Linked DNA regions of Homo sapiens. The protein of the gene in region 2 interacts with the protein of the main gene of each other region in a pairwise test. Each region holds a gene or a part of one and is shown on either strand. Other genes may lie near its edges.

What was found. Proteins that work in one complex are often made in the same cells at the same time.
Region 1: the proteins of PALMD (region 2) and ABLIM3 interact in binary tests that used the Homo sapiens proteins (3 or more experiments, as listed by UniProt).

The regions. Positions count from the first base shown.
Region 1 is NC_000005.10:149,242,492-149,249,520, reverse strand, and holds part of ABLIM3 (actin-binding LIM protein 3), read right to left. Parts: coding exon 6,983-7,029; intron 4,641-6,982; coding exon 4,506-4,640; intron 3,040-4,505; coding exon 2,975-3,039; intron 1,740-2,974; coding exon 1,592-1,739; intron 1-1,591. UniProt on the Homo sapiens protein: May act as scaffold protein. May stimulate ABRA activity and ABRA-dependent SRF transcriptional activity.
Region 2 is NC_000001.11:99,684,105-99,691,133, reverse strand, and holds part of PALMD (palmdelphin), read right to left. Parts: intron 4,459-7,029; coding exon 4,344-4,458; intron 4,205-4,343; coding exon 4,171-4,204; intron 4,059-4,170; coding exon 3,945-4,058; intron 2,360-3,944; coding exon 1,262-2,359; intron 1-1,261.

The DNA.
Region 1 (7,029 bases), on a different chromosome or scaffold from region 2:
CACAGACCCCGCAGCCAGGGCTTGGAAACAGTGGCCCTCAGTGGTCAGGCAGGAAAACAGGCTCAGCAGTTCATCCTGGCTCTGCCATTAGTAGATTTCTAACTTCAGACAATCTAATTAATCACGCTTTGGTTTTCTCATCTGCAAAATGGGGAGTGATAGTGCCTCCTTTGTAGGATTATTGTGAAGAATATGTGACACAATACAGTAAGATACTTAGCATAGTGCCTGACGCATCTATAACACTCCATAAGACTGGCTTTATCATATTGCCGCCAACACCAACATCTTCAATCTCACTGAGAGTCAAGGTGTAGTATGGGGAAGAGGGAAGAGCTCATGGCCTTGGGGCCACTCCAACTTGGGTCTGATCCTGGCTCAGTCACTTACTGGCTTTTGACTTGGAGCAAGTGGCTTAACCTCAGTTCTCTCATCTATAAAGTGGGTGATAATAATCCCTCTACATTGCAGCTCTACCAGGAGTGTAACATTCCTACAAATGCCTGGCACATAGAAGTGTAATAAATGGTGCATTTTATTATCCATAATGTATTGATCCGAGATGAGATTTCCTGGCAGGACTGCATCTCACAGGAGTAAGAAAAGGAGGAGGCAGACAGAGTGTGTGTGTGTGTGTGTGTGTGTGTGTGTGTGTGTGTGTCCAGGAATAGGAGGAGCTTGCAATGAGATTTTCAAGAAGTATTTGAATAAAGCCCCTGCTTGTATAAGTTCAAATCATGGTAGACTCACTACCTCAGGAGGCCATCCCTTACATCTTTGAGCCATTCCGATGATTATAAGACATCGTTCTTTTTTTTTTTTTTTTTTTTTGAGAGAGAGTCTCGCTCTGTTGCCCAGGCTGGAGTGCAGTGGTGCAATCTCGGCTCACTGCAAGCTCCGCCTCCTGCCTCACGCCATTCTCCTGCCTCAGCCTCCCGAGTAGTTGGGACTACAGGTGCCCACCACCATGCCCAGCTAATTTTCTGTATTTTTAGTAAAGACCGGGTTTCACCATGTTAGCCAGGATGGTCTTGATCTCCTGACCTCATGATCTGCCCGCCTCGGCCTCCTAAAGTGCTGGGATTACAGTCATGAGCCACTGCGCCCAGCCAAGCCATTTTTCTTTATACTGAATCTGACTGGAAGTCAGAGCTTCAGATGCCCCAAAGCAATGGGAGTGACTGCTCAGGGCAGCATGGTCTTACATAGTGCCCCATAGAGCGCCTTTCCAAATCTGTATTCTAGACCTCAATGAAGCTCCCAGAAGGGGCATTGCAGGGTTTGGGGCTAACCTTTGTGGCCAGCCTCTTCTGATTCTTTTGTTAGCCCAGGGGATTGAGACGGGGCTGGCTACATTCCAATAGAACCTAATTTATAAAAGCAGGCAAGGAAGCTGATGAAGTAAGCTCCATTACTGATAAATTGAGTGATCTTGGGCAAGTCACCCACCACAGGGCTGCTGTGAGGAAGAAGAGAGAGGATGCATGGGCTGTGCCTCAAGGGAGCCTGGCTCAGAGCAAACAGCTGACACTGCCAGCTAGTCACAGAGAAAGGTGTCCCCGCCCCGTTGGGCTTCCAGAGCCATGCTTACAGCCATTGAGGGACATCTCATAGCCAGCTGTGTGCAGGGCTTCCCGGCTGCTGGTGGAGCTCCGGGGAGGGGTCCAGGGATCTGCATAGGAGCTCGACCGGGCCTTCATTTCTTCCTTCAGAATCAGCCGGCCAATTCCACTTTGGAGCTGAGGGTCGGGGAAGAGCAAGATAAAGTTAGAAGGAAAACAAAGGACACTGAGATGGAACGGGCTTGGGCAAGGCTGAGGATCACATCCTCCATAGCAGCCTGCTCTCATGTTTGCCTTCCCAGCGTCCCTCCCACCTTGTGGCACCCATGTTTCCTGTTGCAATCTCATCTTGTCTTCCACAAGTTGTCCTGTGGTCTGGGTGGGGGTCTGGTGGTGGGCACAAAAAAGCAAGCCTGGCCAGTGACAGGATCCCATTGTCTTGGCACAGTGATTGATTCAACAATGGGCAGATAGCCACCTTTTTCTTTTTAACTGAGGTGAAAATTACTTAACTTCAAATTAACCATTTTAAAGGAAATGATTCAGTGGCATTCAGTGCATTCACAATGTTGTGGAACTACCACCTCTATCTCGTTTCAAAATACCATTATTTCCCCCAAAGGAGATCCCATATCCATGAAGCACTCACTCCCCATTCCCCTCTCCCCGTGCCCCTGGGAACCAGCAATCTATGTTCTGTCTCTATGGATTTGCCTATTCTGCATATTTCATGGAAATGGAATCACACAATATGCGACCTTGTGTCTGGCTTCTTTTCTTAAGCATAATGTTTTCAAGGTTCATCCACATTGTGGCATGTATCATTACTTCATTTCTTTTCATGGCTGAATAATATTCCACTGTATGGACATACCATATTTTGTCCTATTCATGAGCTGATGGACATTTGGATTATTTCCATATTTTAGCTTTCGTGAATAGTGCTGCCACGGATATGAGTATATATGTATTTGTTTAAGTCCTGTTTTTAATTCTTCTGGGTATATATCTAGGAGTGGAATTGCTGGATCATGTGGTAATTTTATGTTTAATTTTTGAGGAACCACCAAATTGTTTTCCACAGGGGCTGAAACAAGGGTTTCACCAGCAATGAACAAGGGTTGCAAGCACCTGCTTACCATTATGTGAAAATAGCTTGCCTGAGCATGAAGCCAATGCAGAGGCAAGCCCCAGAAGTGAAGAGACAAATTTCCTATGACATTTTTTTGAGCAGTTGGATCTAGTCATACTTTAAGCTAATTCCACCATTTGATTTTTCAGTTATGCAAAGCTATGCTTTTCTTTTTTCTATCATAAGTGGGCTTGAATCTGTTTTTTGTTGCTTGTAAATGAAAAGACCCTCAGTGATATACGCTCTAAGCATCATATTCAGTGCTGTGGTCTCTGCCCACCTTGTGCATGCTGCGGTCAAAATCATCCTCCTCTCCTCCAGACGAGAACCTTCTGGCTCGGGGCACTGTCAAAAGACAGAAAAGATCAGCTCCGGCATGTGCACCCCACTCAGCCTGGCTTAAGGCATTTTTTTTTTAAAAAAGAAAAGCCACTTTTCTTTCTTTTTAATCTTATTTTTCAATGGAAACAGTCTCGTTTAAGCTAAGCCCCACATCAGCTGAAAGTGGTCTCTGCTGCCTTTGTGGTCTCTGAACACTCCTCTCCTGTGGGGATGGATCACTGCCCACTTGGTTATAGTCGTATTTGTGTCTTACCTTCTTTTCTAAATGAAGACTTCTTTGAGAGTAGCGAACGAGTCATCCTTTTATTAAATTTTTAAATTTTTGAGACAGGGGCTCACTCTCACCCAGGCTAGAGTGCAGTGGTGTGATCATGGCTTGTTGCAGCCTCAAGTCCCCAGGCTCAAGGGATCCTCCTGCCTCAGGCTTGCATGTAGCTGGGACTACAGGCATACACTATCATGCCCAGATAATTTTTAAAAATTTTTTTGTAGAGAAGAAGTGCTATGTTGTCCAGGCTGGTCTCAATTTCCTGGGCTCAAGTGATCTTCCCAACTTGGCCTCCCAAAGTGCTGGGATTACGGGCGTGAGCCACTGTGCCCAGCACCAAAGAGTCATCTCTGAGCTTCTGTGAAGCTTTGCTCAGAATGGACATTGAATTAGTAAAGACATTGAATCAGAGTGGATCTTGATGGGGGGAAAAATTTCCCCCCATACTTGAAAGGAACAGCTTGGGTTGTATGATTGGGTGAGGTGGTATCTGAGGACCACTGAGACCCCTTACCAGGAGCCTTCCACCTCCCCACATCCTCTCTTTCTCCATCCTCCCAACCATTTTTTACCCTACAGCCAAAGTGGTCTCTCAAAAGCACAAATGTGATCATGCCACTACTTTCAATGTGATCATGCCACTCACTGTTTAGGATAACAACCAAAATCCTTACCTCAACCCTCAAAACCCTGGGGGACCTCCTCCCTCACCTCTACTGCTTCTCTTCCTCTCTGAGTTCAAGGTTAAGTGGACAGCCTTTTCTTTCCTCCAGTGGAATCCTCTCTCACATCCTGGGTCTTTGCAGAAGTATTTCTACACTCTCTGCTGTGTTACATCCTTGCCACCCTCCTGATGGCAGCTGAGTGGCTGCATTGAGAAACTTTTGTCATCTTCAGGCTGGACAGCAGGCCCCTGCCATCAGCTCTCCTACCTTCTGCGCATCACCTCCCTCTCATGGCTGGGGCCTATGTCTTCTCCACAAGGGCAGGGACCTGGTCTGTTTTGCTCCCCAGTGTATTGCTAGGGTCCATGGCCAGTGTTTAGTACATATTTGTTGAATGAATAAACACCCTTAGTTATAAACCCTCTAAGCACTCTTATTCAGAATGATTGTATAAAGGAGTGGGCAACTGTTCTGAACACCCGTGTCCTTGGCACAGGTGTTAGGGCCCTGGACCCAGGCTCCTATGGGGGTACTACCTTTGGGGGACCCATGGTAGGTCCAGTACTCAGACTCCGAAGCATAGTAGGGGTCTGGCGAGTAGATGGGACTGTACTTGGAGGTCTGGCTGATGTCTTCACTTGTTTTGCTCTTGGTTGCTGTAGACAAATCACCTGCAGAGGACCCAAGGAGAGCACTTCAGGAAGGCAGAGTGACCGGGATGGGACTGTGTACCCTTTTCCTATCTTTACCAGGCTCCAGCCCAGGGGAGTGAGTCCACTTCAAGATCAGGGCTCTCTGTTAGAACTGGGCCATGGAGCATCGGAGCTGGAAAAGCACTGGGGCCAAACCCTCATTTTGCATTTAGTAATTGGAGCACCAGAGAGGGGAAGGGGCTTGCTTAAGACCACATAGCATGTGAGCACCAGAACTGGACCAGATCCCAGCCCAGGGCTCTTTCCAGCACATTCCATGGATTCCCAGGTCTGTTCCAGAATGACCTCTAAGGGTGTGGCTCCTCAAATAAGACTGGACAGGTCCCAGGTGAGCCCCAGCCCTTTAGAAGCCTTCCTAGCCCTTTAGAAGCCTTCCTTGTTATAAATTTGAACTCCATCATTTCTCACAACCTGAGATGCCACATTCTGCTCAGGGACTACATAGCCTGAAGGAAGGAGTGCTAGACAGGGAGTCAGCAAACCTGGGTTCTGGTCCCAGCTCTGCCACTTTACTCAGCTGTAACACTGGGCAGGTCCTACCATCTCTGCCTTAGTTTCCTCATCTGTAAGTGTCAGAATCGGTCTGCTGGCTCAGCTGCCATCCAGCTTCAAGCTTCCACCTGAAGTAAGCCCAGGACAGGGGTGACCAAAAAGACCCACTGCAGTCACAACTACTTACAGAGCAGTGACTTCTCGTGGCCCAAACGTGGGTGACAGGCTGGTAGAGCAGAGAGAGGGGCTGGGGAAGTGTGTGTGGCTGCATGACCATTTCTCATGGTCAGCTACAGGAAGCTTTAGGGACAAGCTCTGTGCTCTGTGGAGCCAGAGTGGCAGAGCGTGGTGGATCAGCTTCAGCCAGCCCTGGGCTATGCAGCCCCCACAACAGCACTTGCTTCCAAAGCTTTCAAATTCTTCTCTTTGACTTGGGTCCTGGGCAGCCCCTCCTGGCTGACTGCATTTAGCTTTTTCCTCCGCCCTCTTTTCCAAGCAACCCACCTCCACCCCAGACTCCTCTTGAGTCTGCTTTAGTGCCACCCCTCAGGGCCCACCTGGAAAATCCCACAAAGTCCTGAGAAGCTTGTGACCTGGGGGCCTTTTCTAGGTATAAAGCCAAACTACCTTTGTCATGTTGGTGTCTTTCTATGAGTACTCAGGGGACATGGCATGTCCTTCACAAGCTGGTACAGACTTGCACATGCTCACAGACTCACCTCGGACCCCCCTGCTCAGCCCCCTCTGGAACCAAGGATGTCTGTATAAAATGTAGAATCTTAGGCACCCAGAGCCGCTGTTTAAACTCGTATTGTCCCCTCCACCAGCTAATTAGTTCAGAACCTGGTGCAGGACTGCTTCGCTCATCTCCAAGCTCCACCGATTCTGGGCCTCCTTTTGTTATCCAGCTAGACCCTTAAGCAAGTGTGGGTGCACAGGGTGGCAGCTGCTCCTCTGCAGCTTCAATGGAAGGGATGTGCTCCTTCAATCGAGGCTTAGTAAGTACTTTTTGCAAAAGTGAACAGGTGGTGTCAGTGATGAATGACTTGGTGGTTCTCATACTAAGTGCAGGGAGGAATCATGGACAAAGCCAGTTATAGTGCAGATTCTTAGTTCACACTCTCAATATTTATAATTAAGGGAGTCTGGGGCAAGGAAGGGGCCAGGGAATCTGCCTTTTAAATGTCTCTCAGGTGCAGATGGTCCATAGATCATTCTTTAAGAAACACTAAATCAATGAATGAATGAAAGAAGGAAGTCACCCTCTGCAACCTTACTCATCTACATCTCCTCTGCAAGTCTCCATCCACTCTCAGGAGACTGTGACTGAGAACAACTTACAGCAGGGGTTCCCAAGTTGGGCTGAGTATCAGAATCACTTGGAGAAACCGTGACACATACAGAATTCGAATTCAGTAAGCCTGGGGTGGGGCCCAGGAATCTGTATGCATCCCCTGTTATTCTAATGAACATTTCAAGTATTAATGCCTTGGAGTGTGACTCTCCCAGGGGCATGTGCGTTTTACAAAGGTTTTACCAATTATGGAACTTAGGATGACAGAGAGCAGGTAAGGGGGAGATTGCAAAGGTGGTGGGAAAGAACTGAGGGGACATGAGGACTTTGTTCTTTTGAAATGATACCAAACTCTGCCCTAATGTCACCCTGGGTGATGGGGCAGTCAACAAGAAGGACCAAGATGCAGCCTTGTGTTTTGTGGCTCCTGGTGGCCTGTGCAGGGCCATCTGCATAGATGGTTAACCTCCCCCCTCTCCTTGTGTGGCCAAGCCCTATCTACCTCTGACCATACCATGCCGTTTGTAGATCGGGGGTTTCCGGTAGATGTTACTGTCTCCA
Region 2 (7,029 bases):
AGAAACTTAGTATCTGCAACTTTCCATTGTGAGACATATCACTCAACTCTGATTGAGGAAGTTGTATACGTGTATACTTTCCAAAAGCTTAGAAATTCTTCAGGTAATTAAATTTATCATTGGGATACCTACTTTAACTACTTAAAATAATGGGAGAAGGTTCATTTTACTGTATTATTAGCTACCTAATATTGGGCTTATGGGTTGTAGAGGAAGAAACATTATTGAATTGTGTAGGTAATTGTGCAGGTACTACCACACTGCCATAGAATTATCAAGTTTGACTTGTGAAGTTAGCCAGTACTTAATATTTATTGCTTTTTAATGAGAATCCTTCCATTAGAGACATTTAAAATTACTATCCCTAGCAAACATACAGAAATTGTATGTCAGGGTAATTTGATTTACATCTTTAGCCAAGGTAAGTACAGCTATTATAACTGATTTTGTTAGGTTCTTATTTATTCTTTATAAATGATAACTAGAATATAGTATTTAAGTGATAACAAGAAATCTAAAATTGAGAAGCTATCACTTTTGTAGAAAAAAAGTGTTAAAGTTATTTTCCACTCAATGCTAAAATAGCTGGTTAGCTATAAAGCTATAAAAATTTTGCAAAGAATGAGAAATGCAAATATATAGAAAATAGAAAAGATAAATATGCTAAGTTGGGGAACACTATGCAAAGTTAAAGGTTATAGAAAACATAAAATAAACTAACATTCTATTTTAAAATGTAGAAAAATTAGGAAAATAAAATTAATGAAACTATAGACATATAGAGAAACAAGATACAGCAAGGTAATAAAATACTCTGAAAATAAAATTTGTTTCTTGTACTTTCTTGCAGAATTAAGGCAATTTGTTAACTTATATAAGAAGTTTAAATCACAGTGAGGCACAAATAAAGTAGTCATCAGATTCTAGTGGAAAAAGATATGTTATTGATGATCCAACATATTAGTGACCCAAATACACTCACAAGCAGCACCATACCATGATAGAAGATGAAATTCAAGTTATTAAAGTTCCTCAATACAATATCAAATAAGGCAATGATTTATTTTTACTTTCTTTATCTTTTGAAGTGACTTAATCACTTTACTGTGGTGATAATAATCTCTATCAGCATTAATAAAAAAATCTCAGTGCGTATTAGTTTATGAGGTGGTCAGAGAAGCCTGAAAGCAAGACTGCATTAGCACAAGAGAAGCTGGTCACATGACTGAACAGCAGTGGCATGCCTTGTCATTTTTATTACCTGTTAAGGATGGATCCTCAGTCCCATCTCCAGTTGTCTGAGCATCAAATGGGGAATGGTGGACAGGGCTGCCTAAGCTTTCTTCTTGCTCTTTCAGAGATATGGAATTTTTGTGGGGGGATTTATGATTTGTGTTTTCATGAGGACTAGCTTCTGATCTTTTTCTAGGAAGTGGTGTTGGTTTGGCTGGCTGGTACACCTGACTATGGGGAGCTATGGGGTGGTAGGACGGTTTCTCTGCTTCTCCTTCATCCTCCTCCTCCTCATCATCAATCACAACCAGCTCAGCATGGATGATCCCATCATATCCTGTCAGAAACTTCTTATCTTCTTCACTGTCTTCTGCCTGCTGATACCCCATGAAAATCATTGTCACCGGTTCTGTATCATTTATGTCTGGAGGCAGGGAATGAACGATATTATATCTGACATCTTCCTCGTCCTCCTGACAAGTGGGTGAAGAATTCTGGTGTTCAGATTTCCCAAATATTGTCTCTCTGGGGCTCAGCCTTGGCTTTGGAGAGGGTGCATCTTTGTCCTGCATGACATTCGATTCTTCCCAAGGAGTCATTAGCCTTTTTTGCGGGGTGTGAAGCTTCTCTTCTGCTTGTTGAATCACTGATCGGGGATGAGGCACTGGCGGAATGGGACTGATGTGATTGAAGTTGTTTCCCCTTTCCTCTGAAAGACCATTGCCCATATTGTGTATGGATTCATTTACACCAATACCCAGTCCATTAGTTTTAATCTTTATCCTTTCTTGAAAGTTTGGTCCAGGGGTCACCGTTTCTCTCTGTGGGGTTGTAGGCCTGTAAAAGGGATTGGCATATACAGGCTCATGATACTCTGTTGGGGATTTAGAGTTTCTCTCTGAGGCTTGTCTTAGAAGTTCCTCTACTTCAACTGGTGCCAGGCCATCGGTGCCATTGTATGCTGCACTGTGATTAGAACTTACTGCATACACTGACTTTTGCCCATCATCATAAACTTTTATTCCTGTACCTTTAAAGTCATCTGATGGCAGAGGTATTGAAGACAGAACTGTACTTTCTCCAGTCTTCAAGTCTTTTTCAACTTTAATTTCCATGGCATATAAAGCTGTTAAGAAACAAATTTGATCTTTGATTTAGTTAACTTTTCTTTTGTAAACTAACCTGCTTTCACTGTGTTTATTTTTATATTAAGTAGACCCTTCATGTTCTTGTATGTGAGATGTTGTCTATTTTTTAAATTTCTGATTTTACTCATTAATGATATCATGACCAACTGGAATAACACGGGTTTTTATGTAATGGTGTAGGGAATTGTACTGAAAAATGGAAAGGGTTGAAGAAGAGAAGTTGATTAGAGAAGATAAGCTGATGGTTCCAAATAGGAAAGAATTTCAATGGGGAACCGAAAAAGATATCCTCTTTCCTATTAATAAATTCAGCAAGATGGATATACTTTCTTTTGCATTTCTCAATGGGCAGAATCAATCTCTTCTTTAGTCAAGAAGAATATGTTGGACTGTGCATCACAGTGGGCAAAGTGCCTAGTACAGTATATTTTATAAAGTTACATCCTTGTTGTACAGGCCAGCAGCCTGGTGAAATTATAGAGGTGTGTTCTAAAGTTTTCACAGTGGAGAGGCTGTTTAAATGTAGAACTGGGATGGAAACGGGAGGGAGAAGGCTACAATCACACACTTCTCTTTCTGCCTTATGTTTCTTTTCATTTTCACTCCCATTTTCAAGTAGAGGAAGGGCTAAAAAGTACAGCAATATCAGCTGCACTGAGACAAATGGACTGGAGAGAACTGGGGAAGCTGAGATTTGCTTCATGACCTAAGTAAGATCCCTATGGCTGGAATTTCAATAGGAAAGGTAAAGCGAATAGAATTCTGTGCAAAATTACAGCTTGCTTTTGTTGTGTCCTCCCACCTTTCTTTCTGAACCCATTTTGTATTTCTTACCTCCTCTATAGCCTGGTGGTTCTTGGCCTTCCTTGACTACCCAAGAAAAACTGCAACACCCCTCATCTGCACTCTCCCTGTCCAGCTTCTCTGCTTTATTCTCTGTATTGCACTCCCTACCATGATATATTTAGTGAATACCTACTATGTGCCTAACTGAACCTGGCACACAGTATCTATTCTCTAAATATTTGTTGAATGAATAAATGACTACCATCTGCAAATAAAGAGTAGCTTTTCCTTCCACTGTAAAATTCAAAGTTTTCCTCTCTGCTCTAATGCAAACCTTCATTTTTCTAGAAGCTTTGAAGCATCAGTTTTATGTAACTCAATTTCCCATGGAGGTAAATAAGGCCTAAGCTTCCCAAAGGAATATTTTCATTTTCAAAAAAGATCTTTGTAACCCCCAAAGAGGTTCTATTGGATGGAATATGTCAGGAGAAATATTTTTGACCAGGGAATCTATGCTTTTAAGAGCTTCTTGTCTCCTTTGGGTCTCTATCTTCCTTATCCCTGTCTGGTTTGTTAGGGAATAAAATGCATGGAATAAATGCTATTATTATACCCTCATTATCCTCACCTATGCGGTGACTCACATAACTCACAGAACTTTGTAAAGTGAACCATTGCTTAACCTGGAAGAATAATATGTCATAGCAAGTTGTGAATATTTGACACTGTAAAATCTGAAATTAAGAACATGCCCTTCAACACAGATTTCTCATATACCTTTCCTATTTTGTTCATCATCTTCTTTTTCTTCATTTATCTCCTTCCTTAACCTAGAAGGTATGTAGGACTTTGGAAGGTCAGGGATATTAGCATAGATGTCCTCAATTGACTCTGTAAAATTAATATGAATTCAAAATACATTTAGAATATATTTACAATGGGAACAATTTCAAATTACCAAAAAAACTTAGTTTAACATAAAATAAGTTATTCAAAAACATACCTTCTGCTCTTTCTTCTCTTTCCACTTTCACAGACTGTAAGAAAAAAGAATTCTCCATGATTAATACAGTTTAAAAAATAGAATCTAAATGTGGATATGCTTTGAAAAATTATATAGTATTTGTGGATTCATTTTGAGAGAGAATTACAGTTTTAAAATTGGTTAATGCTCACTCTTATAATGTCTTCTGTTGTCCGCTCAATTGACTTTAGTTTCTTTAAAATGGCCTCTTCCTTCGTTGAGATTTGCAGTTCAGCTTTTTCAAGATCTTGGATCTCTTTCTCAAGCCTGACAACAAAAAGGTATACTTTTTATTGCTTAACACAGTACAAATGCGGAGTTCTCAAATATGTCTTCCCCATATATAAAGTTTCCTTGGAATATGCATGTAAGTAGCCAGACACTTTCTAAGAATATAATGTCACACTTAGCATCACACTAAGCATGATACTTAATATATGGAAGATACCTAATGCCCGACTTTGAACGATTTTCAAGTTTTCTTTTTTTGACAAAGGAATATATTAGGTAAAGCATTTGACCTTTGCTCCATGTTCTTCATTGCAATTACTAATGTTATTTCCAAATAAAAGAGATTTTTAAAATACAGAGACATAAGTTTAAAGTTGTACCGAAAGGAATGGTACATTTGTAGTTATTATGTAGTTCATCAGGTTTTCATATCCAAGTCATCATATAAATTATTTGAAGAAAACATTATAATTATTAAACTGATTTAATAATCATAGTCATTTAGTACTTAAAATTCTTGCATATTCTACCATTGAAAATGACACTTTGATTTAATTTCAGTTTCCTAAGAGTTGGGCCATATTATAGTGAGGAGGGTGAAGAGATGCAGAAATGGACCAAATATAGTACAGTAGCTTCAACTGCTGCTGTTTATAGAGGCTACATTTTCTGGGCGGGGGGTAGGGCACACATGGCCTGACACAGCATAAGGAACTTACAGCAACAAAGAGACAGACATTTGAAACTAGACTGTTGCAAGCATTCTGAGCTGGTATCTTGGCCAGTGTACAGCTGCGTGTCAGATTCAAATGAACTCCAGGGGGCAGCATCGTGACCTCTCCTCTATAAAAACATAGAGACACTGGCAATCACGCAGAAGGCTGGCCCTTGGCAGCCACGTAACACACATGGTTTCTCAGCCAAATACACTAAGGCTCTAAAGTCAGCTGCCTCAGAGGATGGCTGATTAGATTCAGCAGCTGGTCCAGGAGGTGACAGCTGTGGATATTCGTGTCAGCTAAGAGAACTGTCAGTTTTCTTGGCTTCCTTCTTGAAGATGGTCATGGGCCTGGCAGCTCAAAAATGCTGCACTATTGTCACACCAGTAAAAGCCCAAGATGTGGTCAGCTTGACAGCTCTCTTGCTCATTGCTTCAGTTTCAAAGTTCTTACTTTGCTGCTGCCTCTGGCCATTGGTAGATTGCCGTTTATAACTGAGGAGGTTTTCTTGTATGCCACAGACCTCTAAGTGAAATGGAGTAGCCCCTGGTTTCTTAGAAGTGACTGAACTGTGACTGCCATTTTATTAAAATTCCTCCACATCCATGGCAGCACTTTTACCCTTCAGCAGAGCTGTGGGGATATATGTTGGTCCAATTTGGTAAAGGGGAAAGCTCTGCACTAAAAGTGATAAATCTGGATTCAATTCTGTCTCTGCTACTCATTTCTTGTGAAAGCCAGTTCCCCTAACCTCTCTGAAACTCTGTTTTGTAATGTGTGTAATGAGCATAATTACAGATTACGCTCATTACCATATACAGACAGATATGTGGTGACACTAAGAGATGATGTATATGAAAGTACATTGAATATGGTTGATATCAGATGTAAATATGTTATGATATAATTTTTAAAAGTTTTCTGCAACATACTGTATGTCTTTCTTTTTTCATCCCCTGTCCCACAGGGTGCTTACCTAATTTGCCTGTTAGAGACAGTCTACAAAGGAAAGCCTTTTGGTAGAAAACAAGAAGGTTCAAATCATTGCTTCAAGCAGCTCTTGCACATCAGGGCCTAGCTGTGGAATCAGGTGGACCTGGGTTTGAAACCTGGTTCATCTGCCAGCTTCCTGTGTGACCTTAGACAAGTCACCTGACCTCACTAAGACTCAGTGTTGGGCTGAGAGAAGTGGCTCATGCCTATAATCCAGCACTTTGGGAAGCTGAGGCAGGAAGATTGCTTGAGCCTAGGAGTTAGAGATGAGCCTGGACAACATAGTGAGACCTCAGTCTCTACAAATATTAAAAAAAATTAGCTGAGCATACACCTGTGGTCTCAGCTACATGGGAGGCTGAGGTGGGAGGATTGTTTGAGCCCGAGTGGTCGAGCTTGCAGTGAGCCATGATCATACCATTGCACTCCAGCCTGGGCAACAGAGTGAGATCTGGGCTAACAAACAAACAAACAAACAATAAAACTCATTGTCTTTATTCATTCATTCTTTTAAAAATATTTACTTAGCATCTACTTTGAACCAGGCACTCTTCTATGTGCTGGGGATCTTACAGTGACCAAAACAAAGTCCCTGAGCTCAAGGAGTTTATGTTCTAGTGGGAGACAATACAGGGGCTGGCAACCTTTTTCTATAAGGGGCCGGATGCCAAATATTTTAGGTTTTGCAGTCCACATATGCTTTCTGTTTCTTATTCATCTTTTTTCCCCTTTTTCTTTTACAGCCTTTTAATAATATAAAAACCATTTTTAGCTTGTGTCTGTACAAAATCAGGCCAGGGCTAGATTTGGTCCTGGGCCATAGTTTGTCAATCCCTGCATTAATAAATGTGTAATACAAATATGTATATATTGCAGATGTATGTACATACATATA